Linked DNA regions of Homo sapiens. The protein of the gene in region 2 purifies or fractionates together with the protein of the main gene of each other region. This does not show direct contact. Each region holds a gene or a part of one and is shown on either strand. Other genes may lie near its edges.

Region 1 (3,500 bases), on a different chromosome or scaffold from region 2:
AAGCTCCCATGCCTGCCACCCACCCCCACTCACTTCGAGCAGCCTCAAAGGACTTGAACTTGACAGGTTCGATGTAGTTGACAAGCGTGGACATCTCCTCAGTGGCATTCACCTCGCTGCTGGCTGTGCCCTGTGGGCCCCAACCCAGGGTCAGCAGTGCCATTCCCGCCACAGCTGGCCATTCCCTCACCTGCCCCCCATGAAGGAGGTGCTGACCCTCTTCCCAGCACTATATACACACTGCTGGTGGTGCCGACAGTCTTCTCCCCGGGGTCTCACTGATGCGCCCTGGACACCACCCAGCTCAAGCAATTTTCCTGCCTCAGCCTCCCAAGTAGCTGGGATTACAGGCGCCCGCCACCTTGCCCGGCTAATTTATGTATTTTTAGTAGAGATGGGGTTTCACCATGTTGGCCAGGCTGGTCTGGAACCTCCCAACCTCAGGTGACTCGCCCACCTCAGCCTCCCAAAGTGCTGGGATTACAGGCATGAGCCACCTCGCCTGGCCCATATAGGTGTTATAATTATCATTACTTTTACTGAATCATTTGGGAGTAAATTATAGACATCATGACCCTTTACCCATAAATACTTCAGCATATATGGACATTCTCTTCTATAACTCCAATACAATAATTAAATTCAGGAAACAAAACATTAACATATTATCTAATATGTAGTCCATCTTTAAATTTCACTAATTGCTCCAGTAATTGTCTTTATAGCAATGATGTCTTTTTTTTTTTTTTTTTTTTTTGAGATAGTGTCTCCCTTTTTAGCCCACGTTGGAGTGCAATGGTGCAATCTCAGCTCACTGCAACCTCCACCTCCCAGGTTCAAGGGATTCTCATGCCTCAGCCTCCCGAGTAGCTGGGATCACAGGTGTGAGCCACCACGCCCAGCTCAGACTGATTTTTTCTGTACCATTCCTCACAGCTACTCAATGCTCCCCATGACAATGCTCCCCGCTCCTGCACCCCCTGGCCCTGCCCCAGGACCTTTGTACATGCTGTCCCCCTTCCTGAGGTCTCCCTGCCCCACCTCCCTGCCCAGGGTAGACTCCCTATCCTCTGCCAGTTCTGTACCCTAACTCGCACCTCCCAGGCCACATCACCAGCAGAACTGTATGCTTGTTTCCATGCCTGATGACTGAAGAGCCCTCCTCCCACCTTCACTCACACCCACACTGAGCCCCAGGAGGCAGGGGTGATGTCAGTCTTGTTGATGGTCAGACCCAGCCCCCTGGGAGGTAAATAGATGCTACCTCCCCGACCTGCCCACCCTGTGGGCCTGACCTCATCTGTAGTTGGCTTTTTGGGGTCTGTCTGTTCCTCCTCTTCCTCATCTTCCTCCTCATCCTCACGGTCAGCAGGTCCAAGAACATAGGGGCCTCGGTTCAGGCCCTCGTCACCCAGAGACTTCTGAGGCTCCAGGCTGGGCTTCTCAAGCCCTACCTCCTCCCCATTGCTCAGGCCTGGGCAGCTGTCAGAGCTGGGAGACCCTGCAGAGGACAGGGCCACAGGGTGAGGGGTCAGGACCACACAGCTGCTTAGGAAGTCTGGAGGGGTTTTTCCCAGTGTGTGCCGAGGTGACTCAGTGGGGAATTCAAGGGGTACTCTCAGGGCAGTGTGGCTTGGGGAGAGGCCAAGAGGTCGAGGTCAGATGGTATTAACCCAGTATGGGTTGAGAGGGGTCATAGGTCAAAGGTAAAGGTCTGCAGTGATATTCAGCAGGGAGGCAGATAGGGTGGTTCAGTGGGGTGAGAAGTCAGGAAGTAGCATACCACAGCCCTAATAGCGGGGTAAGGGATGACATAGAGAGGTTACAGGTCAGGGGTAAGTCAGAGCCATGTCTAAGGAGGGGGCATAGTGAGGTGAACAGTCAGGGGTGAGAGGTCAGAGGTCAGCTGAAATGATAACCAACTGGGCAGGTGAACTCAATGCGGGCTTAGGGGTCTGAGGTCACACCCAGTGTGGGATGTGGTTTACTGAGGTCAGAGGTCAGCCTTCAGAGCCATCACCGGGTTGTGGGAAGGCTCTGAGAGGTGAGAGGCTGAGGTTGGGAGTCAGGAGTTGGGGTGCAGCTGGGTGAGACGTGCACCTGAGGTCAGGGGTCAGAGGCCCCACACCAGCCGACAGGTGGTGAGGAGACAGGCCGGTTGTGGGAACAGGCGCACAGCGAGGCAGGAGGGTGGGCTGGGGGTCTGGGATGAAGTGTCACGGCGCCTGGAGCATGAGGCCAGAGGCTAGGGTCAAGTCAGGGTGGCGGGCCGGGCTGGGGCCTACCCAGCTGCGGGGAGGAGGGCTCGGTGGCCGCGGAGCTCTCGCTCAGGGCAGAATTGCTCTGCTCCAGGGGCCGCTTGCGCCCGGCGCTGTCTGGGCCACCTGCGCTGGGTCGGTGCCGCTTCTTGTTCTTCACCAGGATACGGCCCATCAGGTCCTGGGGGCTGGGCAGGGGAACGCCTGGGGCCAGCTGGGCAGGCATGGACGAGTCAGGGCCCTGGACCGGGTCCGCAGCACCCTGGCCCCCATGCCACCCCCCTCGCTCCGAGCTCCCGTACCGGGTACTTGTCCAGAGGCTCGATGAGTAGCGCGTCTCCAAAGATGGAGCGGCAGTACTCAGCCATCTTTGCCTGTTGCTTTGCCCTGCGGAACCGAGGTCAGAGGTCAGAGATCCCTCCCCCAGAGAGGAAGCTGAGGTCTACGGGACATGTCAGTGGCCGTTCGCAGGGTTGGAGGTCCCTGAGCAGTCCAACAGCACTGAAGCTGGAAGACTGTCCCCCGGTCCATGGGGTTTCATGCCAGGGGCTCACTCACGAGTCCACATGGTTCTCGAAGGAGAGGATGACGGGGTAGGGCGAGGTCTTGAAGGCAGTCTCGGCAATGGCCTCCAGCACGTCGCGCAGAGGCACCTCTGTGGTCATGGTGAAGCCGTGGGTAATGAAGGGTTCCTCCTCAGGCGGCCGTCCCTTCCACACGTCCAGCTCCACGCAGCGGCAGCCCCATAGTAGTGCCTGGCGGTACATCTCCACCGACGAGGTCCCAGCCAGCTGCCCCGCTGGGGCGGCGAGGCTCTGTCACCGAGGCCGCCCACCAGCCCAGCTCCTCACCACCCCGGCCCCACCTGGAACCAGGACATGCTGGATTTGCAGAGGGCTCTCCATCTCTCAGATGGATACCCACCACCTGTCCATCCCACCAGCGTGAGCTGGGGGGAGTCATCCCTGAGACTCACTATAGCTCCCCACTGCCTCAACAATCCCTCCCTCTCCTCACTCCCTCCACCCACCTCAGCCCTGGCACAGCTCACACCACCTCCTGTGTGGAAGACTCCAGCCCTCCCTGCCTCCAATCCAATCTCTTTTTTTTTTTTTTTTGAGACGGAACCTCGCTCTGTCACCCAGGCTGGAGTGCAGTGGCACAACCTCGGTTCACTGCAACCTCCGCCTCCCTGGTTCAAGCGATTCTCCTGCCTCAGCCTCCCGAGTAGCTGGGATTACA
Region 2 (3,500 bases):
TTTTTTGTATTTTTAGTGGACAGGGTTTCACCGTGTTAGCCAGGATGGTCTTGATCTCCTGACCTCGTGATCTGCCCGCCTCAGCCTCCCAAAGTGCTGGGATTACAGGCGTGAGCCACTGCGCCCAGCCAGAATTTTCTATAATAGGAGACTTTAATTATTTCATGGAAGCAGCAGCCAGGGTCCTAAAGAAGAGGAAATAAAAACATGCAAACTCGGATTCATGATAAAACATCAAAACATAACATCAAAGACTGAAGGAAATCTTAAAAGCAAACAGAAGAGAGATTACTAAGGAAAACAAGACAATCAGAATGATAGCAAAACATCTCATTAGCAACATATGCCACAAGACAATGAAGTAATATTTTCAAAATGCTGAGGAAAAATAACTAAGAATTCTATATTCGGGAAGCAATGATAAATTAGACATTTTCAAACAAAGATTGAGAGTTTACCACTCTTAAACTCTGGCTGAACAAATTACTAAAGGATGTCCTTCAGTACGGATTCCTTCTTGAAGTGTTTTTAAATCCATAAAGTGCACAGGGTTACAGGCCGGTCGCAGTGGCTCACCCACCAGCACTTTGGGAAGCTGAGGTAGGTGGATCACTTGAGTTCAGGAGTTCAAGACCAGCCTGGGCAACATGGCAATACCCTGTCTCTACAAAAAAGTGCAAAAATTAGCAGAGTTTGGTGGTGTGCCTATAATCCCAGCTACTCAGGAGGCTGAGGCGGGAGGATGGCTTGGGCCTGGGAGGTCGAGGCTGCAGTGAGCCATGTTTGCGACACTACACTCCAGACTGGGTGACAAAGCAAGACCCTGGGTACTTTAGTAGTTATATATACATGTGTATATATATGTGTATATATGTATATATGTGTATATATGAATATATGTGTATATATGTGTATATGTATATGTGTGTATATATGTGTATATACATATACACACAAAGCAAGACCCTGTCTCACACACACACAAAAATATTTATAGTATTTATTTATTTATTTATTTATATAAAAATATTTATATATTTTTGTGTATATATGTGTGTATTTTTATGTGTATATATATATACACACACACACACACACACACATACAGAAAAGAAGTAAATTATACTAAAATACAGTTACTTTGGACATGTATGTACAAAAAATTGAATTTAGACACACACTTTACACCTTTCCCAAAAATTAACTCAAAATGGATAATAAATCTAAGTGTAAAATGCAAAACTACAAAACTCCTAGAAGGTAACATAGGAGAAAATCTACATGCCCCTGGATTTGGCCACGACTATTTAGTTACAACACCAAAAGAATGTCCCAGGAAAGAAAAAAATTGACCAGTTGGACTTCATTAAAATTGAAAACTGCTCTGTGAAAGATGCTGTTGAGATAATGAAAAGATAAGTCACAGACTCAGAGGAAATCTTTGAAAAACACATATTTGATAAAGAACTGGTGTCCAAAATATACAAAGAACTCTTAAAACTCAATAACGAGAAAACAAAAACCCAATTGAAAAATGGGCAAAAGATCTAAACACCTCCTTTTACATAGATGACAAATAAGCATAAAAAAAGATGTTCCAGGGCTGGGTGTGGTGGCTCATGCCTGTAATCCCAGCACTTTGGGAGGCCAAGGTGGGTGGATCACCTGAGGTCAGGAGTTCAAGACCAGCTTGGCCATCATGGTGAAACCCCGTCTCTACTAAAAATACAAAATTAGTTGGGTGTGGTGGTGTGCACCTGTAACCCCAGCTACTTGGAAGGCTGAGGCAGGAGAATCACTTGAACCAGGGAGGCAGAAGTTACAGTGAGCTGAGATCGCACCATTGCACTCCAGCCTGGTCAAAAAAAGTGAAACTCCGTCTCACAAAAAAAAAAAAAAAAAAAAAAAGATCTTCCAAATCATATGTCATTAGAGAATGGCAATTTAAAACAACAATGAGATACCACTACACATCTATTAGAATGGCTAAAATACAAGACACTGACAACACCAAATCCTGGCAGTGATGTGAACCAATAGTAACTCTTACCCACTGTAGTTGGGAATGCAAAAACAGATACTTTGGCAGTTTCCTAGAAAGTAAACATAAACTTACCATACAATCCAGCAATCACGCTCCTTGGTACTAAATGTGTTGAAAATTTATGTGTACACAAAACCTACACATGAATGCTTATGGCAGCTTTATTTGTAACTGCCCAAACTTGGATGTGACCCAGATGTTCCTCAATAGCTCAATGGATAAACAAACTGTGGTATATTCATATAACGAAATATTATTCAGCAATAAAAAGAAATGAGCCATCAAGCCATTAATAGACATGGAGAAACCTCAAATGCATTTTGTTAAGGGAAGGAAGCCAATCTGAAAAGGTTACATACTGTATGATTCCAACTATATGGAAAAGGTAAAACTATAGAGACAGTAAAAAGATCAGTGGTTGCTACGGTTTCGGGAGAAGAGAGGGATGAACAAGTAGGAAACAGCGGATTTTTAGGGCAGTGAAACTATTCTGTACAATACTATAATTGTGGATACACGTCATCATGCATTTGTCAAAACTCACATAATGTATAACACCAAGACTGAACCCTAATGTAAGCTACGGAATTTAGTTAGTAATAAATCAATATTGACTCAATTGTGACAAACATATTACACTAGTATAGGATGTCAATAACAGGGAAAATTGTGTGCGTGGTGAGGGAGAAAGGGCACGTTTGGGAACTCTCTGTACTTTTCCATCAATATTTTTCTGTAAGTCTAAAACTGCTTCCAAAAAACCATCTATTGATAAAGAGAAAATTAAAAAACAATAAAAACAGCAACAACAAAAACAATATCTTGACATATGGGAAGATGAAAATTAAAACGTTCTAAGTTCCTCATATTGTTTAGGAGAAACAGATGTTAATTATCTTTAGACTTTCAGTCAAATAATGCATATCAAAAATTCAAAAGAAACTGCTAAACAAAAAGAGGATGAAGTAAAACAACTCTCCGTTATAAAGCAACTCTATTCTTTTTAACTGTGGCAGCTTACCTGAGATTCCAGAACCTCCAACTTATGTTTCCTTGCATGAAGAGCTTTACTTGGAAAAGCCCAATAATAATTAGAAGTTCCGATCCTCTCACAGTCAACCATACCATCATCAACTAAGCTTTGAAGGACTTCTTTTACTGACATAGCAGCTAAGAGACAATTTTTAAAGACTCTATGTTAGAAAAACACCATAAATAAAATTAAAGGACAAATAACTGGGGAAACACTTGCAAAACATATCACAAATCAAGAGTTAAAAAGTTAATAAGCTCTTAAAAATAACAACATGCACAACAATGAAACTGCCTAAGGAAACATTTCTTAGAATGTATCCCCATCCTTAAGCAAAGCATGACTTATACAGGAGCCTAGGGGAAAACAAGTAATATACAGGATTAAGAACAGGACCTGAGTTCTAATCCTAACTCTTAGCAG
Region 3 (4,067 bases), on a different chromosome or scaffold from region 2:
CATCTAAATTCTTAATCTGGAGTGCAAAACAAGACATTTATGTTTTGAAAACTTTCACTAGCTATATTGATGTGCAGCAAGGGTTCATAATCACTATATTAAGTATTTAATAACATGTCCCAAAGAAAACAACAGAATGAGAAATCTGTTCTATACCTTAGAAACATCTTTAGATACAGTGTAACAAATACATTGGAGGGAAAAAACTGAAGAGCCAGGACACTACATGCACTACCCATACTCCATAAGGCTAGTTGAGACAAGATGTGGCCTTGAACTAGAGAAAAAGAAACTAGGGTTAAGGGCTAATTCATGAAGCAGAATCTAATGACCAAATGGTTATGGCAAGTGAAGGAAAAAAGAGGCAAAAATGATTCCAATATCTCTAGTTTTTATAACCAGATGGCTAGTGATGCCATTAACCAATGAATGGAAGGCAAAAAGGGAAGGTGGTTTGAAAGTCAGAGGAGTTAATAGAGAAGAGGTCAAAGGGACTTAATGTATTATTTTTAATGTTTCACTTTTTATGAAGGATGTGTACATAGATGTTCATTTCATTATCCCTCCAACTAGCTGGGACTACAGGCGGCGCCACTAAGCCTGGCTAATTTTTGTCTCTTTTGTTGAGACAGGGAGTTTCGCCATGTTACCCAAGCTGGTCTCGAACTCTTGAGCTAAAGCAATCTGCCAGCCTCAGCCTCCCAAAGTATTGGGATTACAGGCGTGAGCCATTGCTCACAGCCCTTATAATCCTTTTAAAAATTTAACCTACTTGTATCACAAAATTCAACCAGAGGTCAAAACTCAAAAACGCACTGACAATCACTGCTTTTATACACTTTCGTATGCATGACATATGTCATAGTGAAAAAAAAAAAAAAAAGGAAGGTGAAGACAGTGCATTTGGTTTTGGACCTAATGAGTTTGCAAGTTTTAGGGGAAAGTACAGAACTATCAACTCATGAGATGGAGGCTAAAGAATAAGGTTTAGGCAGGGCATGGTGGCTCACACCTGTAATCCCAGCACTTTGGGAGGCCGAAGCAGGCGGATCACTTCAGGTCAGGAGTTCAAGACCAACCTGGCCAACATGGTGGAACCCCATCTCTACTAAAAACACAAAAATTAGCTGGGCGTGGTGGCAGGCACCTGTAATCCCAGCTACTCGGAAGGCTGAGGCAGGAGAATTGCTTGAACCTGGGAGGCGGAGGTTGCAGTGAGCCGAGATGGTGCCTCGGTACTCCAGTCTGGGCGACAGAGCAAATAAGGTTTGGAAAAGAACAAGGTTTGGAAATGAAAAGAATAAGGTTTGGACATGGTTGGCATATAGGGACAATGCCATGGAAGCAAGCGAGAAGCCTCGAGGAGAGCCTGTGGAAGACCATTTGGGTTATAGCAATGACTGAGGGCCAACTAAAAGGACGGCGTTAACCAAGACTGAAAATAACCAAAGAGATAGGAGCTTTTACTAATTCCCTTTCCCTTTCTCCATGGCACATAGGAGAAAATCAATTTTTAAAAAGCTACATTTATGGTTATCTTACTGTAATCCTGTGGCAGGTCCAGAATTTCCAAATAGATGGGGACAGAGGAGTAATCTGGAAGGAAGACTTGAAGATGCTTTTGCATAGTACTCTATATTAAGGTAGAAAATACCAGTTGGCCATATCAAAAAACTGAGAAAAAGCGATTTGAGGGAAATATTTCCCTCCCCTTTGGCACCACGATTGCTGTATTCTAGGCACTAAACCAAACCAAACCTCTTACCTAATCTCCTTTCTTCCTCAAAACAAGCCTATTAAGTAGATGAGGAAATTGAGGCTAGATTGGAATAGAAACTGGCTCAGGGTCACAAAGCACCTAAGGAGCACTTTAGCTCTCCCACAGCTTTCTACAGCTCTTTATATGCAACTAGTGTTTCTCATTACCCATCTTGATATAATGTGTATTTATGTGCGTTAGCTTCTCAATGGCAGAGTTAGTGTTATTCATTTCTGTATCCTTGTAGCCAAGAACAAGTATATATTTTGTTAAATTAAGCATGTGAAAGAATCAGGTGAGGATAGCATGAAGAAAGGCAGCAGGGGAAAGTTTCAAGAAATGGATGGTCAGCAGCGTCAAATGGTACAGAGAGAGCTATCAGTCTATCTTAAATCATCATTGGCATTCAACTGATATTCCATATTCGTTTATTGAACGTCTACTACACGCAGGACATTGTGTTAAGCACTACAAACACATAGGAAAAATAAAAGTCTCGTACAAGTAAAAGGATTTTCGGGGAAGTAGCTTCATCTAAATTCTTGCTCAGGAAAGCAAAACGAAGACTCAGGCCTGCAACTGCCTACATCTTATTTGGCTCAGGTAAATCGGAAGACAACTCAAAAGGGGCACAGCGCATCTTTAATAAAACTTCTCATGGAAGACGAGATAAAGAGCCACAGAAACTCAGTCTCGGTAACGATGGCCGGTGGCCACGGAGGCCGACTTCCCCCGGAGTCTCTCGCCTCCTGAGCAGCGCTGGGGCTGCCCCTCGCTCCCCCTCCGTAGTCTGGGGCGGGAAAAAGCAGACACTTACCGCAAAAGACACCGCTAAAGCCGTGGCCCTGAGGGGCCGGGAATTCCTTAGCGAGGCCCCACGCCGTCGGAAGAAACCCAAGAAAGCTGGGAGCAGACAGACAGGTATGACCCCACAACCCAACTTCCCGAACTAGATAAAGTAGGGTCCCAACGCCCAGCACCACGTCGTCAACTCCCACCAGCTGGAAGACCAACGGAGTGCCAGCGAACCTTCCGCCCAATGAGGAAACGTCACCACTCCGCGTAGTCCAGCCTTTCTATAGGAGAATCTACTTCCGCTTCCGGGGCACACCGCCGCGTTCCTTCTACGCGGCTCCTGAAACAGTTTAGATGTTTACTTGCTTACACTGGTTTTTGGTTTCAGTTTCCTACCGCTGAATAACTGCAGGAGTAAAGTTAGTGGTAAAATAGGAGGCTGTCTAGGGACGTGATTTCGGGGAAGAAGTCAGGCCTCGACGAGCCACCTTAAGAAAAGTGACTAGGCGGAGCACTCCCAGCTAAGAGCGGAAAGATGAGAGATAGAGGTGTGACTGAAGGCAGGGATCCCCAGGCGCACGTGAGACCTCCGTAGAGGGGCGGGGCTTAGGGCTTTGCAGACCGGAGGCTTGTTCCGCGGAGGGTGGGGCGGTCTCTGCTTGCGCATGCGCAATGCCAGCCAGTGCCTGCGCGGCTTGCTCCAGCAAGGTAAAATTTCCCACTGCGAGGCAGGCAGTGATGCTGCGGCCGCTTCGCACTGTGGCTCCTGCCGACCGCCAGGCGCTGTTACAGTGGATGCGAACTAACCGTAAGTGTAAGTGACCAGAGCTAGAGGCAGGTGGTGGGGGCAAGGATATGCTGCAGGCGCTGACTTTGAGGACTTAAGCGGGGTGAAGCCAACAGCCTTCCTTGGGATCGTTGTGCTGGTCTCTGCTGTCTTGGGGGGTAGATTGACCAGGGCTTTGAGTGCTCTAACGGAAAAGAGAGTTAGTTGCTCGCCACACGTAGACACCAATTAACAAGAGCGAGCCCTAGTATACAAGAAGAGGGATTTTATTTCTGAAGCCAGCCCGCTTCGTCTTTGGAGCAAAAAAGCGGGCATTTTATAAGGTACAAGAGGAAATGAGCAAGAGGTCTCTGCTAGCTGGTGCCTTATCTACCGGGTAGTTGAGTTGGTGCATTTCTGAGCAGAAATAAGTTGTAAAAGTGGCCAAGTGGGCATGCTTTCTGCTTACCCTTCTGAGGCGACCGCCTGGCGGTGGGAGTTGCGTCTTGGATCTCGTAGATGAATTTGCTCTGTAGAGAATGGTCTGGTGAGGGGAGTTGAGAGGTTATTTTGCAGTTCAAAAAGGGCTAAGTGGAAAGTGTAGTGGGGAGGGGAAAAGAGGGGAAAAAATAAACTATCTCTTGGAAAATGGGGGTAATCGGATACAGTACCACTTGGAATTAATTGGGTGTGGGAAACCTGGTTCTGAGTGGTTTGTGAGTTTTCAGCAGACTTCGGACAAGCCTT
Region 4 (3,500 bases), on a different chromosome or scaffold from region 2:
CTGGAGAAAGGAGCATACTCAGTGTTTCCCCTCAGAGGAGGGAGAAAGCACTGGAAGTCTGAGTTCTCCCGACTGTGCCTGTTCCTTTTTCCCTTCCGGATTCTGTCATGTGTCCTTTCACTGTAATAAACCTTAGCCGTTGAGTGCAACTATATGCTCAGCCCTGTGAATCCTTCTGGGACTCAACAATCCTAAATCACTGAATGTGGCCTTGGCAACCCACAAATCACAGAATTTTCAGAACTACCTCATATACACTTCTTAGCATGTTTCTGCATTTATTTCCTTAGGTTCTACTTTCCTAGAAGCAGATCTGCCAAATTAAATGGTATGTGGCATTTTAAATCTTGATACATATCACTACAACTCCCTATAGGAAGACTGTATAAAATTTATCCCTGTGTAAATGCATAATAAGTATTTACCACACAGCCTTGCTGACCACAAGTATTCATCTTTTTTGCTAGAAACAAAATCTTTATTGCTGTAAGATGTGTTTCTTTGCCCAATTTCTTATTTTCTTATTGACTTATTAAGAGTTCTCTCTATATATGAAGGATACTTGTATGAAGAAATTTACTACAAACCTTTAGAACTTAACAAATTTATTATTTCTATTTACAGAAGTTAAATCCTTTATGTTTCCAGATTTGGTATAATACTAGGAAAGGCTTTCCTCACCTATTTAAAAATATTTTCTATATTTTCTTCTAGAATTTCTAAGGAATCTAGAATTTAGCATACAGTCTTTAATCGATCTGGAATTCTCATATATGCTGTGAAGTAGATCTAACTTTTAGATTAACCAGCAGTCCCAGCATAGGGGTGAGCTATACTTTCTTCATTTGGCTTACCTATATTTTCTGATCCCTACAACAAACACATGTTATTTTATATTTGTGTAAAGTGAAGTTTGTTTTTTTTAATTTTAGATTCATCCTAATTCTTTTTTTTTTTTTTTTTTGGAGATGGAGTTTTGCTCTTGTTGCCCAGGCTGGAGTGTAATGGTGCGATCTCAGCTCACTGCAACCTCCGCTCCCTGGGTTCAAACAATTCTCCTGCCTCAGCTTCCCGAATAGCTGGGATTACAGGCACACGCCACCACGCCCAGGTAATTTTTGTATTTTTAGTAGAGATAGGGTTTCACCATGTTGGCCAGGATGGTCTCGAACTCCAGACCTCAAGTGATCCACCGGCCTCGGCCTCCCAAAGTGCTGCAATTACAGGCCTGAGCCACCGTGCCCAGCCCAACCTAATTCTTTAAAAATAAACTGCTTCACCCAGGAGTTCGAAGCTGCAGTGAGCTATGATCTTGGTCTCTTTAAAAAAACAAAAAACAAACAAAAACTTTAAAAATTGCTTGGGGTTAAATTCCAGTTACCTGTCTTTTGGATCCCAGCTGAAAAAAACATTTAAGTCTCTGTTGTCTCGCAAATCTTCCCATGGAATGTCATCTTCTTCTGGCCTAAGGTTCATTGACTTTATACTTTCTGCTAAACTGGTTGATCTGTGATAGAGAAAAATCCACATATTATTTTAATAGTAAAATAGCCAGAAAATATTATTAATCAGGACTTCCTGTTTTACTAGACAGGAAGGGAAAGAGGAAGGAAGGGCTCATAATAAGGTGAAATAGAACCAAGCGCAGATCAAACTGGCTTGCTACATGGCAAGAAAAAGGCTTCTGGAAGCCCACACAAAACAAAGGGGATCAGCATTAATTCCTGAAATCTCTTGATTTGTAGGGGAGGCGGAACCTTCGTAAGCACAATATGGACCAGGCATTGATGACCATGACCTAAATGGCTTCTGTAATGGTCTCAAGATGTTGCTGGCAGTACTCTACCATTCCCCATGACATGTGCCAAGTTCTGTTTCCCCACTGTCTCTCTCCCTTTTTTCCCCCTATTTTACCTTAAGCCTGCCAATAACACCCATGAGCCCATTAATGGCTCTTAACAACTGATCTAATCCCTTAGTTCCTTTATAGCTCTCATGCAATACTTACATATTTGCTTCAAGTAGAAGGTCTAACAGCATCCGTTCAGTACGGACTTGTGCAAAATGAAGAGAATTATTCAGCCTGTTCCTAAAAGCGATAAACTCTGGGATCTTCTCAAATGCACCATATTTGTAAGCTTGAATAATATATTCTGAGGTCTGAGAAGGAAAGACATCACCTTGGTATAAATAGTTCACAAGTCAGGCAATGTAAGCAAACCTTGCCAGCCAAAACAAAACACTCAAACTAAAATTAAGTTTTAAATCTAATCTTTAAAGGTCTTGGTCACCAAGTAGAATATTAGCTTTTTAAAATGTTTTTCTTCCTTCTTATACTTTAGACAAATGTCTCCTTTACTAATATTACTAATTGTAATAACCAGCTTCTGCCACCATCACATAAGCCTTCTCTTGGCAGTCATGTCTTTCAATTCAATAGGAACTGAGGTTTTGTTTTGCCACATCAGTCAAAAATTTGGTTAGTGCCATTCTGGAAGGGATGTTACTCCATGTTTTTCTGCATCTAAGATAAACTGTGTTTCATACAAAGGTTCCAAAAGCACCAGAATAATAGAACCACCTGCCCCCCGCCCCCCCAAATAAAAACCACTCTCCTTCAGAAAAAGACAGGCTGCTCCTTGGTTTTGCTTATTTCTGAATACTGTATTAGAAACACAGGGCATATGAGCATTACGTCAGGATAGAAGTAAGACACCAAACAAAAGACCTATCAAAATTCATGTCATAATCTATTCTGAGGACAAAGACTTCAAGAACCAAGTTTCTTGTCCATCTACATTACGTAAGACCTCTGCTGGAAATTTCCTTAAACAAGTATGTGAAGGGAACATTCACCACATGTGCTTTAATTGTAGCTTAATACATATACAGAGATCAAACATTACAGAACAGAGGCAAGATAAAGAATTCTAAGCAGAAATTCTGGCACAATAGAAGAAAATCTCAGGGAAGAACATTTCATGGGTGTGGGTCTATGCCATCAGGATCAGAAGACAGGAGATTACCCCTTTGGGCCAAGGAAACTATTATGCTCAAAGCTGATGTCTGCCCCCAAAAAAGATCCTTTCTAGAAAAAACAGTCTTTTTACACAGCCTCAGTTAATCAGCTCTGCCCCCATCTCCATTACGTCTGAATAATTTGCCCAGTAGGAAAATAGGCCAATAGTCAACAACATACCCTCTGATATACAGCCTTGCAGGGTTCATTTCAGGCCGCGGGATTGCGCCACGGGCGCTAATTCAACTGCATTCGATGCGGCTTTTAAACCCCCATGGGACACCTCGGCGAGCTGTTTGCCTGCAGTATCTGGAGAAATTAAAGACGGACGGACACAAGAAAATTAAAAAGATTACTTGTGATCCTGCAGGTTTCAAGAAGGACTACCTGAAAAAGCTCGAGTATACCTTCTAGCTTGATTAAAGGACAGTGATACACCCTATCAAGAGGAGGCCAGGATACTCTAAACACATATGCCTAT
Region 5 (2,364 bases), on a different chromosome or scaffold from region 2:
GGAATGAATCATGAAATTGTTCATAAATGTGTTAAAATTACAAGCTTCTGTTCCCAAGGCAACTAAAAACATTTCAGATCTTAAACTTTCTGATCACTGAAACTCTGAAGTGCTTGGTTTACTGTATAAATATTACATGCTATGAAAGTGAAACTTTTAAGAAAAATAAACTTCTGTGAATGAACAATAGGCTCTATCTATTAATATCTAGTTCATAGGACTTCCGTAGATGAAGCCAGTCTTTACACAATCTTTAATCACACCACCATTTGATCATCTGTCACTTGTTTTCTTGTCATACGGCTTGCATACTGACATAATTCTTATGTAATCTTTCATATATGTAGATTTTCTCTCTCATGGATACGCTTCCTCCACTTTTTATTTCATATTCCTTTCCTGTCTTTGTACCTCCTGTCTCATACAGCAGGTGTTTAATAAAAGATTTTGGGAACAGAACAAAATCAATACAAACCAAACCTTACAGCCACAACATACTGTGTGTTTGCATCAAACAAAAGAGAGTTTTATTTTAAGCTTTGCATTTCCTTAAAAGTGAGGACTTTGTCAAACATTTTTATCCACTCTGAGAAATGTACAATGATTAGAAAAGTGCGTGTCATAATAATTTTCATATATATGTACTCCAAAACATCACAAACACACGGCTTTGGGATAACTTAAGGAGTATAACCTGAAGATTTTCAAATTTCATAAATTAGCCTTTAATGAATTGTACAAAATATTTTTATAAAAAAAGTTTATGTTTTCTGAACACATGAGTATTTAATCATTACTTCCACCTCGCAAGACTCACAGGAAAATAAAACAGTTCAAATAGAAAAGGAGAAAAAAGTCAAAAGAAAACAAAGAAAAGGAAATCTGGTTCACAGCATCTGAATTACTTCTGGACTCTCTTTCTGGTTCTTGAACCTTGAAGAAAAATCAAAGAAACTGAAATCACTAGTCAATAATTTACAAAAGCAAAAGAACAGAAATATAAATATCCCTAAATATAGTTATTAACATTTTAAAATCAAATCGACTCTCGTGATTTGCAAAGATAAAACTGACATACAAAGGTATGATTGCTAATACTCTGAAAATCTTAGAAAATTGGGTCATTTTTTAATATGTCAAAAAATATGCTGACAAAACCTACCTTCTCTTAAGCCATATAAAAATACTGACTGATAAAACGTATCTAATTTTTACTAATACTGAAATATTTCTCTCCAAAATTTAAATTTGTTGTAAAATTTAAAACATTATCTCCAAATATAAACCTTAGCAATATAGATAAGCATTCACTCCTAAGGTGGAAGCGATGAGGTCACACATGTTATGAAAAGCAAAGCAATAAGTTGCTTTTTAAAGACTATTAGCTACACCCTTGAGGCAGGAGAGCACTGGGATATACTGAAATGGAAAGTCTTTTCCGCTAGGAATTATACAGGTCCCAAATGAGTAGCCTCCTGGAAAAGGATCATATGTGATACTGGTCTAAGTCCTTTATGACAGTACCTATCTAACTATTCTGGTTTGGAATAAATCAATGACTCTCTGCTGGGGGCATGGGAATTCTGCCTCACCAAGACATTTCACCCCACCTACTACTCCTACTCCACCTCTGGGTACAGCAGTTAGCCTGATCACGGCTGCCTAGTGCTGGTGAAAGAAGCAGGGCCATTTCTTTCCCACTGCCGCATGCTACGCTCTGCCAGGAAAGAGCAGGGGCACCAGAGTCAGGGACAGCATGGTGCTCATAATTAATCAATGACTGCACGAAAAAAAACAAAAGATCAATACTTCTTTTCTGAAAAGTACGAAACATTCTTTGAATGTGGAACAAAATTCTACCATGTGTATCTAAAGGTTTTCTGATCATGGGTTTTAGTTACTTAACATGAAGGTCAGTTTCAAAACTAGCATTTTTAATTTTTCCAAGTTATAGTTTCTATTCAATCATACAGTTCAATGAAAGCAAATTTCAAGCTTATATGAATATCCTTTTTTCTGCCACTCATAATACATACCCTATATACTGTACTATGATTGATTCTAAAATTTGAGTTTTTTTCTTAAATTTCTGTAACACGGCCATCTATTAAAAATATCCCACAGTAGATTTTTAGGTTTTTATTTCAAGAAATTTTATTTTTATTATTATTATTTTTTTTTTTGAGAGGGAGTCTCGCTTTGTTGCCAGGCTAGAGTGCAGTGACACGATCTTGGCTCAGGCAACCTCCGCCTCCTGGGTTCAAGTGATTCTCCTGCCTCAGCCTCCAGAGTAGCTGAGATTACAGGTGCCTGTCACCACGCCCAGGTAATTTTTGTATTTTAGTAGGACTTAGACTTTCACCA
Region 6 (3,500 bases), on a different chromosome or scaffold from region 2:
CGTTTAACTTATGATAAGCATTTTCTACATTGCCCCAAACTCTAACCATATAATCTTCCTTTTTGGGAATGTATTATAATTTTTTTTTTTGAGAGAGAGAGTCTCGCTCTGTCGCCCAGGCTGGAGTGCAGTGGCACGATCTCGGCTCACTGCAAGCTCCGCCTCCCAGCTTCACGCCATTCTCCTGCCTCAGCCTCCCGATCAGCTGAGACTACAGGCGCCCACCACCATGCCCGACTAATTTTTTGTATTTTTAGTAGAGACGGGGTTTCACCATGTTAGCCAGGATGGTCTCGATCTCTTGACCTCGTGATCCGCCCGCCTCGGCCTTCCAAAGTACTGGGATTACAGGCGTGAGCCACCGCGCCTGGCCGTATTATGATTTTTTTAACCATTTCACCCATTCTTTGGACATCTGAGTTTCAAGCGATAAAAAGGATGAAGATACAGTTTTAAATGGATGTATAATTTCTACCGTACAATAGCAGTACTCAAGAAAAATGCATTAGCAGGAAGATATGGGTGATTTTCTGTTGGTATAATACATATTATTTACTAAAGAGGTGGGGAGCAGGTCCCTGTGGACCAGCTGTGACTTTGCGGCAGCCCCACTCCCCATCTCCGCAGTAGCCCCTACCCTTGTTTTCCCTCATCCTTCAGGGATGAACCACTGCACTCAGGTCTCTCGGGTCAAGCACCTACCCAGAACGAGTGATGGGGCCCCTAGCAGTTGGGAGGACTCTGCCCAGTCTCCAGGGGCAATTCCTACCAAGGTTCAAGCCATTGAGGCCCTTGAGGGTGTGGGTTTGGTGTTAATGGATCTTTTGAATTTTCGAGAGAAAGAGCAAGATTACTCAATTTCTAATGTGAGGGGTTCCTGACTTCTTATTGTCAGTGGCCAATTCAACTTTAAAAGTACAATAAGTCTGGGCACAACACAACACAACTGTATGCAGAATAAGGTCCATGTCCTCTGAACAGTCTGATCTAGAGGAAGGAGACCGCTTACCCCAACACTGTCGGAAGGAGGGGCAGCAAGGAGTGATAGAAAGAAGCAGCAGCAGAAACCCAGGAGGAGAGAAAAAGAAAGGTGGGGGCAGCACCCACAGGGAGCAGACGCTGGGTTCCTCCCCACCCCTGGGCCCTTTACGTCATAGCCACAGCTCCAGGCCCCACTGGGCCTTAACTACCACCTGGTTCTGTTCCTGCAGATTCTTTTTCATTCCAAGGAAGAGACCATCTTCCAGAGCCAAGGGAAAGCTCTACTCAGACCTCCCATAGCGTGAGACTTCCCAGGGAACCTCCTCTAGCAGAGCAGGCTGTCCCTCCTCCTGTAGGCCCAGCTCTCTACAGTGATGGCTAAAAACAAGCTCCTTTTCTTCAAGGGTTGTACCAGTTAAATGCTAGATTGGGCACGTGCTTCAGTCATTCATATAACTTCTCTATGGCACCACCCTCAGGGATTTGTGGGTCAAAAAGGTATCTTCAGTCACGAAAATTTACCAGACCCACCCTAGAAAAAAAGCTGATCTTAACCTGAAAATCACTGTTGGAGACAAGAACCACATTAAATAACCCAGCTAAGGCAGGGGCTGAGGAGAGTCAGCAAATGCTTGTTGGTATCTTCTGTGCATTTGGGAGATTCTGGAAAATCTTTGGCAACTTCAGGAAAAAAAAAGTACTTTTATGGCTTTTCTTGTGCTGATAATGTTTTCTACAAAAGAGATTCCGGGCATAGTATGTCTGTTATTGCTCTGGGCACAGTAGGTCTGTTAAAATTACTGTTCCAGTTGTTGAAAGAATTTTGTTATTATTTGGTTGCCTGCCTTTATGTTTTTCAAAGGCAGTGTCTTATGGAGTAACTAAATATTTTAGTTAATAACAGACCTTATCTGGCATACTTTTAAACATCTATGACTATAACATTTAATAGAGTTTTTCATAGATATTAGAAAGATAAATTTTGGTTGATCCACTCAATATGTGACTCTTTGAAGTCATGTTACCTACACTAATCAAGATAGTGTGGTGCTGGCATGAGAACGGGCATATACATCAATGGAATAAAATAGGGAGTCCGGAAATAAACCCTCACATGTATGGTCATTGATTTTTGACAAAAGGGCCAAGTCAATTCGATGGGGGAAAGAATAGTTTTTTCAACAAATAGTGTGGGGTAACTGGATATCCACATGCAGAAGAATGAATTTGGACCCTTACCTTACATTGAATGTAAAAATAAACTCAAAGTGATCACAGACCTAAATCTGTAAGTTTTAGTTACAAACCACTTAGGAGAAACGCAGGAGTAAATCACAATCTTGGGTTAGGCGATGACTTACTAAATATGACACCAAAAACGTAGCAGTAAGAGAGAAAATTGCTAAGTCCAATTTCATCAAAATAAAAAACTTTTGTAATTATCCAGTGTAAGATATTTTGTCATAACAGTCTTGGACTAAGACAGAACTTATATCCAGAATATGCTGTATAAAGACCTCTTAGAACGCAACATCAAAGAGACAAATAATACAATTAAGAAATGGACCAGGGATTTAAGCAGACATTTCTCCAGAGAAGGTATACAGATGGTCAGTTAGCACGTGAAAAGATGCTTAACATCTCTGGTCATTTGGGAAATGCAAATTAAAACCACAATGAGACAGCACTTCACTCCCATTAGGATGGTTATAACTAAAAGGAAAAATGGGCTGGTTGCAGTGGCTCACACCTGTAATCCCAGCACTTTGGGAGGCAGGTGGATCACCTGAGGTCGGGAGTTCAAGACCAGCCTGGCCAACATGGTTGAAATGCCATCTCTACTAAAAATACAAAAATTAGCTGGGCATGATGGCGGGGGCCTGTAATCCCAGCTACCCAGGAGGCTGAAGCAGGAGAATCGCTTGAACCCAGGAGGTGGAGGTTGCAGTGAGCCGAGATCATGCCACTGGACTGCAGCCTGGCGACAAAGCGAGATCCCATCTCAAAAAAAAAAAAAAAAGAAAAACGATGACAGGTGTTGGGAAGGATGTGGAGAAATGAGAATCCTCAGGCATTGCTGGTGGCAATGTAAAATGGTGCAGCCTCTTTGGAAGTTCATCATTTGAGGAGAGGCAGTTCCTCCAAAGGTTAAACATAAAGTTAACTTATGGCCAGTCATCCCAATCCTAGGTATCTACCCAACAGAAATGAAAACAACTGTCCACAAAAGACTTCCATGTGAATTTCTTAGTCTGAAAGTGGAAACAACTCTGTCAGCTGATTCATAGATGAAACTTTATTTGGCAATAAGAAGAAATGTAGTTCTGATCCATACTATAACATGGATAAATCTTTAAAACATTATGCTAAAATCCAGTCACAAAAAAAAAAAACATGTATATTGTATGATTTCATTTATAGAAATGTCCAGAAGAGGCAAATTTGTAGGATGGAAAGTAGATTAATGGTTGCCTAAGACTGAGGAAAGGGGAATGGAGTGAGTGCCAGTGGGTATGGGA
Region 7 (3,500 bases), on a different chromosome or scaffold from region 2:
TATATATATATATATATTCTGAAACTGTGTCTATATTCATATCTTCAGTTATCTCAGCATGTCTTTTTTTTTTTTTTTTTTTTGAGATGGAGACTCTGTCTTGTTTAGTTACATTTGCATAGTAAAGAAAAGAAATACATTTATGCTTGGCCAGGTGCAGTGGCTCATGCCTATAATCCTAGCACTTTGGGAGTCCAAGGCAGGGGGATCACTTGAGGCCAGGAGTTTGAGACCAGCCTGGCCAACATGGTGAAACCCCGTCTCTACTAAAAATACAAAAATTAGCTGGGTGTGGTGGTATGCACCTGTAATCCCAGCTACTTGGGTGGCCAAGGCATGAGAATGGCTTGAACTTGGGAGGTGAAGGTTGCAGTGAGCCGAGATGGCGCCACTGCACTCCAGCCTGAGTGACTGAGACCCTGCCTCAACAACAACAATAACAAAAACTTAATTAGAAAAAGTTTTTTTGGCTGGGCACAGGTGGCTCATGCCTGTAATCCCAACACTTTGGAAGGCTGAGATGGGTGGATCATGAGGTCAGGAGTTCAAGACCAGCCTGGCCAACACAGTGAAACTCTGTCTCAACTAAAAATACAAAAAATTAGCCAGGCGTGGTGGCAGGCACCTGTAATCCCATCTACTCAGGAGGCTGAGGCAGGAGAGTTGCTTGAACCCAGGAGGCGGGGGTTGCAGTGAGCCAAAATCGTGCCATTGCACTCCAGACCAGGTGACAGTGCGAGACTCCATCTCAAATAAATAAATAAATAAAAATAATTTTTTTTTTTCAAGAAATATTTTGGCTGGGTGCAGTGGCTCATGCCTGTAGTCCCAGCACTTTGGGAGGCCAAGGCGGGGAGATCACTTGAGGTCAGGAGTACAAGACCAGCTTTGCCAACATGGCGAAACCCTGTCTCTACTAAAAATACAAAAAATTAGCCAGGCGTGGTGGCACACGCCTGTAATCCCAGCTACTCGGGAGGCTGAGGCAGGAGAATCGCTCGAACCCGGAGGCGGAAATTGCGGTGAACTGAGATCGCGCCACTGCACTCCAGCCTGGGCGACAGAGCGAGACCCCATCTAAAAAACAAACAAACAAAAAGAAGTATTTTTGCTTAATAAGCAACTTGATTTACTTGTGCCTAGTGTTTGTTCAGTCTGATATACCTTGCATGAGTTTCGAAGTTTTTGCCTTTCCTTCTTAATGGCTTTTTTCTGGATATCTTTTTCCTTCTTTGCCAGCAATGCTTGCTGTCTGACTTCCTCCTCTTCTTTCTCCTTAGCTAACCGAGCAGCTTCTAATTCAGCTTGTCTTTGCTTTAAAAAAAGGGAGTAAAATCATTTTAATAGGTACAGTAAAATTCCTAAATGTTTTATAATTTTAAAAATTTAAACTTTTAATAAATTATATTAGGAAAAAAGGCAACATAAACTTATTGAAAACTGAAGGATGAACTCGGAAAGACAGCTGGTAAAGATCTATAAACATTTATTAGAAAATGTAAAATTGACATATTAGAAATAAGCATAATATTAAAGGAACTTATGACACAATTTTTTGCTCAATAAAAACGTGCTGGTAAGGAAGATCTCTCAATTATACCAACTGGTCATGATTCATTCACAGTAGCACCCAATTCTCTGCTTTCGAATTATAGTTTTTTTTAAAAAAAGATGTGAAGATTAAAGTGAAGATTAAAGATTTCATAAACATTTAAAGTCCACCTTCATTAAATGTTGTCTTACTTTTTCTTTAGCTTCTTGCTCCTTCCGTTTAGCTTCTGCTTTTGCTTTCTTTTCTGCTTCTTTCTTGGCTTTTTCTTCTTCCTTGAACTTTTTTATCCTTGGATCACAGCTGTATGCATTGTCTAGCAAAAGAAAAAGTTAATCTCATTTTGAATTTCTAACATTTAGGGGACTTAAATCAATTCTACTTACCAACTAATGTTCTTATTCTGTTCATTTCTTCTTTTTTTCTTTGTGCTCTTGTTGCTCTGTTCTGCTTTTCAATCCATCTCCTCTCATCACGACTATAAAATAGAAAATATTGGAAACAAACTACTGCTTATAGATGCTATGACTGGAAAATGCAATATTTTATAAAATATTTATATGTACATAACATCCTAGAGGTTAAAATGCTGTGTCATTACTAACATTAAACAATGATTTTTTTTTTTTTGAGACAGACTTTTGCTCTTGTCGCCCAGGCTGGAGTGCAATGGCGTGATTTTGGCTCATTGCAACCTCTGCCTCCCAGGTTCAAGTGAGTCTCCTGCCTCAGCCTCCGGAGTAGCTGGAATTACAGGTGCCTGTCACCATGCCTGGCTACTTTTTCTATTTTTAGTAGAGACAGGGTTTCGCCATGTTGGCCAGGCTGGTCTCGCACTCCTGACCTCAGGTGATCTGCCCGCCTCAGCCTCCCAAAGTGCTAGGATTACAGGAATGAGCCAGCACGCCCGGCCTAAACAGTGGTTCTATTTAATATTAATTTTGGTTATTTTTTGCACATTCATGTCAAAAGCATTTCTGCACACATACAAAAAAAAAATTAATAAAACCTAGGTTAAGCAACCAGAAGAAAAAGATTTTGCTGAACTGAGCTATCTGACATTATATTCCTTGGCAATTTCTTAAGCATATCCTAACCAATTATTGATCTGGGCCCACCTAGTTTAACTTGTGAGAAAGGATTTCAAAATATTAAAAAATTGTTTAAAAAAGATGTACAAAGAGAAAATATGAAAGAAAATTTACGTGACAATTTTTACATCATCACAAATACCAGAGAACCAAATAAATACCTTCCATTATTAATGATTTGCATACATACCATTCTGCTTTTTCTTTTTCTTCTTCATCTAAATAAGAAAATTCTCTCCAAGAATCAAAATTATACCTAATATAGACAGAAATAATACATGATCAAGACAGAATAAATGAAAAAAAATTCTTTTTAATGCAAGTGAATGAATTTGTTTTAATGGATACCTTTCCTTCCCTTCTAGTATTGAACTAAGGTCAAGTCTTTCTCCTTTTTTAAGGACATTGCATTTGGTATGAAAATCTAAAATGCACATATCACTCCATAATCAAAACCACACCGCCCTGCTATCTCTTCTTTGTTAGGTTTTTCGCTTGACCAAGACCTATTTTTAAGTTTTCCTTGCCTTCAATTTCGCTAGTCTGTCAAGTCTGAAGGTAACCCTAGTAGTGGTTATCTCATCTCCAGTTTGTATCCTCTGAAGGTAAAAGCAATTACAACTGATAGAACTAAATCTTGTTATTTTTGTTCTATGTGATTTTATGTTTTTGTATTTACTAGACATTTGATGAGAAAATGTAGCACATATAAAATGGCCACTAACTATTGCGCATATTAAAAATTAGTGAATTAGTTACAGAGACAAATAGCACTGTCTCCTTCCTCATGAACTCAAGTACTTTTAGTAGGAAGTAACTAAATAAAAATGTACTTATTTTTATTCAAATGACTCCCCAAT

Evidence for each region.
Region 1: the proteins of MND1 (region 2) and PLCB3 purify together in Homo sapiens (affinity purification with mass spectrometry; one large-scale study listed by BioGRID and IntAct). This does not show direct contact.
Region 3: the proteins of MND1 (region 2) and SRP54 purify together in Homo sapiens (affinity purification with mass spectrometry; one large-scale study listed by BioGRID and IntAct). This does not show direct contact.
Region 4: the proteins of MND1 (region 2) and NAA25 purify together in Homo sapiens (affinity purification with mass spectrometry; one large-scale study listed by BioGRID and IntAct). This does not show direct contact.
Region 5: the proteins of MND1 (region 2) and VRK1 purify together in Homo sapiens (affinity purification with mass spectrometry; one large-scale study listed by BioGRID and IntAct). This does not show direct contact.
Region 6: the proteins of MND1 (region 2) and RTF2 purify together in Homo sapiens (affinity purification with mass spectrometry; one large-scale study listed by BioGRID and IntAct). This does not show direct contact.
Region 7: the proteins of MND1 (region 2) and DNAJC2 purify together in Homo sapiens (affinity purification with mass spectrometry; one large-scale study listed by BioGRID and IntAct). This does not show direct contact.

What each region holds. Positions count from the first base shown.
Region 1 is NC_000011.10:64,258,030-64,261,529, reverse strand, and holds part of PLCB3 (1-phosphatidylinositol 4,5-bisphosphate phosphodiesterase beta-3), read right to left. Parts: intron 3,058-3,500; coding exon 2,817-3,057; intron 2,646-2,816; coding exon 2,561-2,645; intron 2,473-2,560; coding exon 2,286-2,472; intron 1,502-2,285; coding exon 1,296-1,501; intron 131-1,295; coding exon 34-130; intron 1-33. UniProt on the Homo sapiens protein: Catalyzes the production of the second messenger molecules diacylglycerol (DAG) and inositol 1,4,5-trisphosphate (IP3).
Region 2 is NC_000004.12:153,358,188-153,361,687, reverse strand, and holds part of MND1 (meiotic nuclear division protein 1 homolog), read right to left. Parts: intron 3,215-3,500; coding exon 3,066-3,214; intron 186-3,065; coding exon of another isoform or gene 81-185; exon of another isoform or gene 1-80. UniProt on the Homo sapiens protein: Required for proper homologous chromosome pairing and efficient cross-over and intragenic recombination during meiosis.
Region 3 is NC_000014.9:34,981,725-34,985,791, reverse strand, and holds the start of SRP54 (signal recognition particle subunit SRP54), read right to left. Parts: upstream 2,801-4,067; 5' UTR 2,577-2,800; intron 1-2,576. UniProt on the Homo sapiens protein: Component of the signal recognition particle (SRP) complex, a ribonucleoprotein complex that mediates the cotranslational targeting of secretory and membrane proteins to the endoplasmic reticulum (ER).
Region 4 is NC_000012.12:112,046,284-112,049,783, forward strand, and holds part of NAA25 (N-alpha-acetyltransferase 25, NatB auxiliary subunit), read right to left. Parts: intron 3,329-3,500; exon of another isoform or gene 3,200-3,328; intron 2,161-3,199; coding exon 2,009-2,160; intron 1,508-2,008; coding exon 1,382-1,507; intron 329-1,381; exon of another isoform or gene 1-328. UniProt on the Homo sapiens protein: Non-catalytic subunit of the NatB complex which catalyzes acetylation of the N-terminal methionine residues of peptides beginning with Met-Asp, Met-Glu, Met-Asn and Met-Gln. May play a role in normal cell-cycle progression.
Region 5 is NC_000014.9:96,879,746-96,882,109, reverse strand, and holds the end of VRK1 (serine/threonine-protein kinase VRK1), read right to left. Parts: intron 934-2,364; coding exon 902-933; 3' UTR 501-901; downstream 1-500. UniProt on the Homo sapiens protein: Serine/threonine kinase involved in the regulation of key cellular processes including the cell cycle, nuclear condensation, transcription regulation, and DNA damage response.
Region 6 is NC_000020.11:56,506,627-56,510,126, forward strand, and holds part of RTF2 (replication termination factor 2), read left to right. Parts: intron 1-3,500. UniProt on the Homo sapiens protein: Replication termination factor which is a component of the elongating replisome. Required for ATR pathway signaling upon DNA damage and has a positive activity during DNA replication.
Region 7 is NC_000007.14:103,320,768-103,324,267, forward strand, and holds part of DNAJC2 (dnaJ homolog subfamily C member 2), read right to left. Parts: intron 2,897-3,500; coding exon 2,831-2,896; intron 2,028-2,830; coding exon 1,936-2,027; intron 1,866-1,935; coding exon 1,744-1,865; intron 1,315-1,743; coding exon 1,165-1,314; intron 1-1,164. UniProt on the Homo sapiens protein: Acts both as a chaperone in the cytosol and as a chromatin regulator in the nucleus.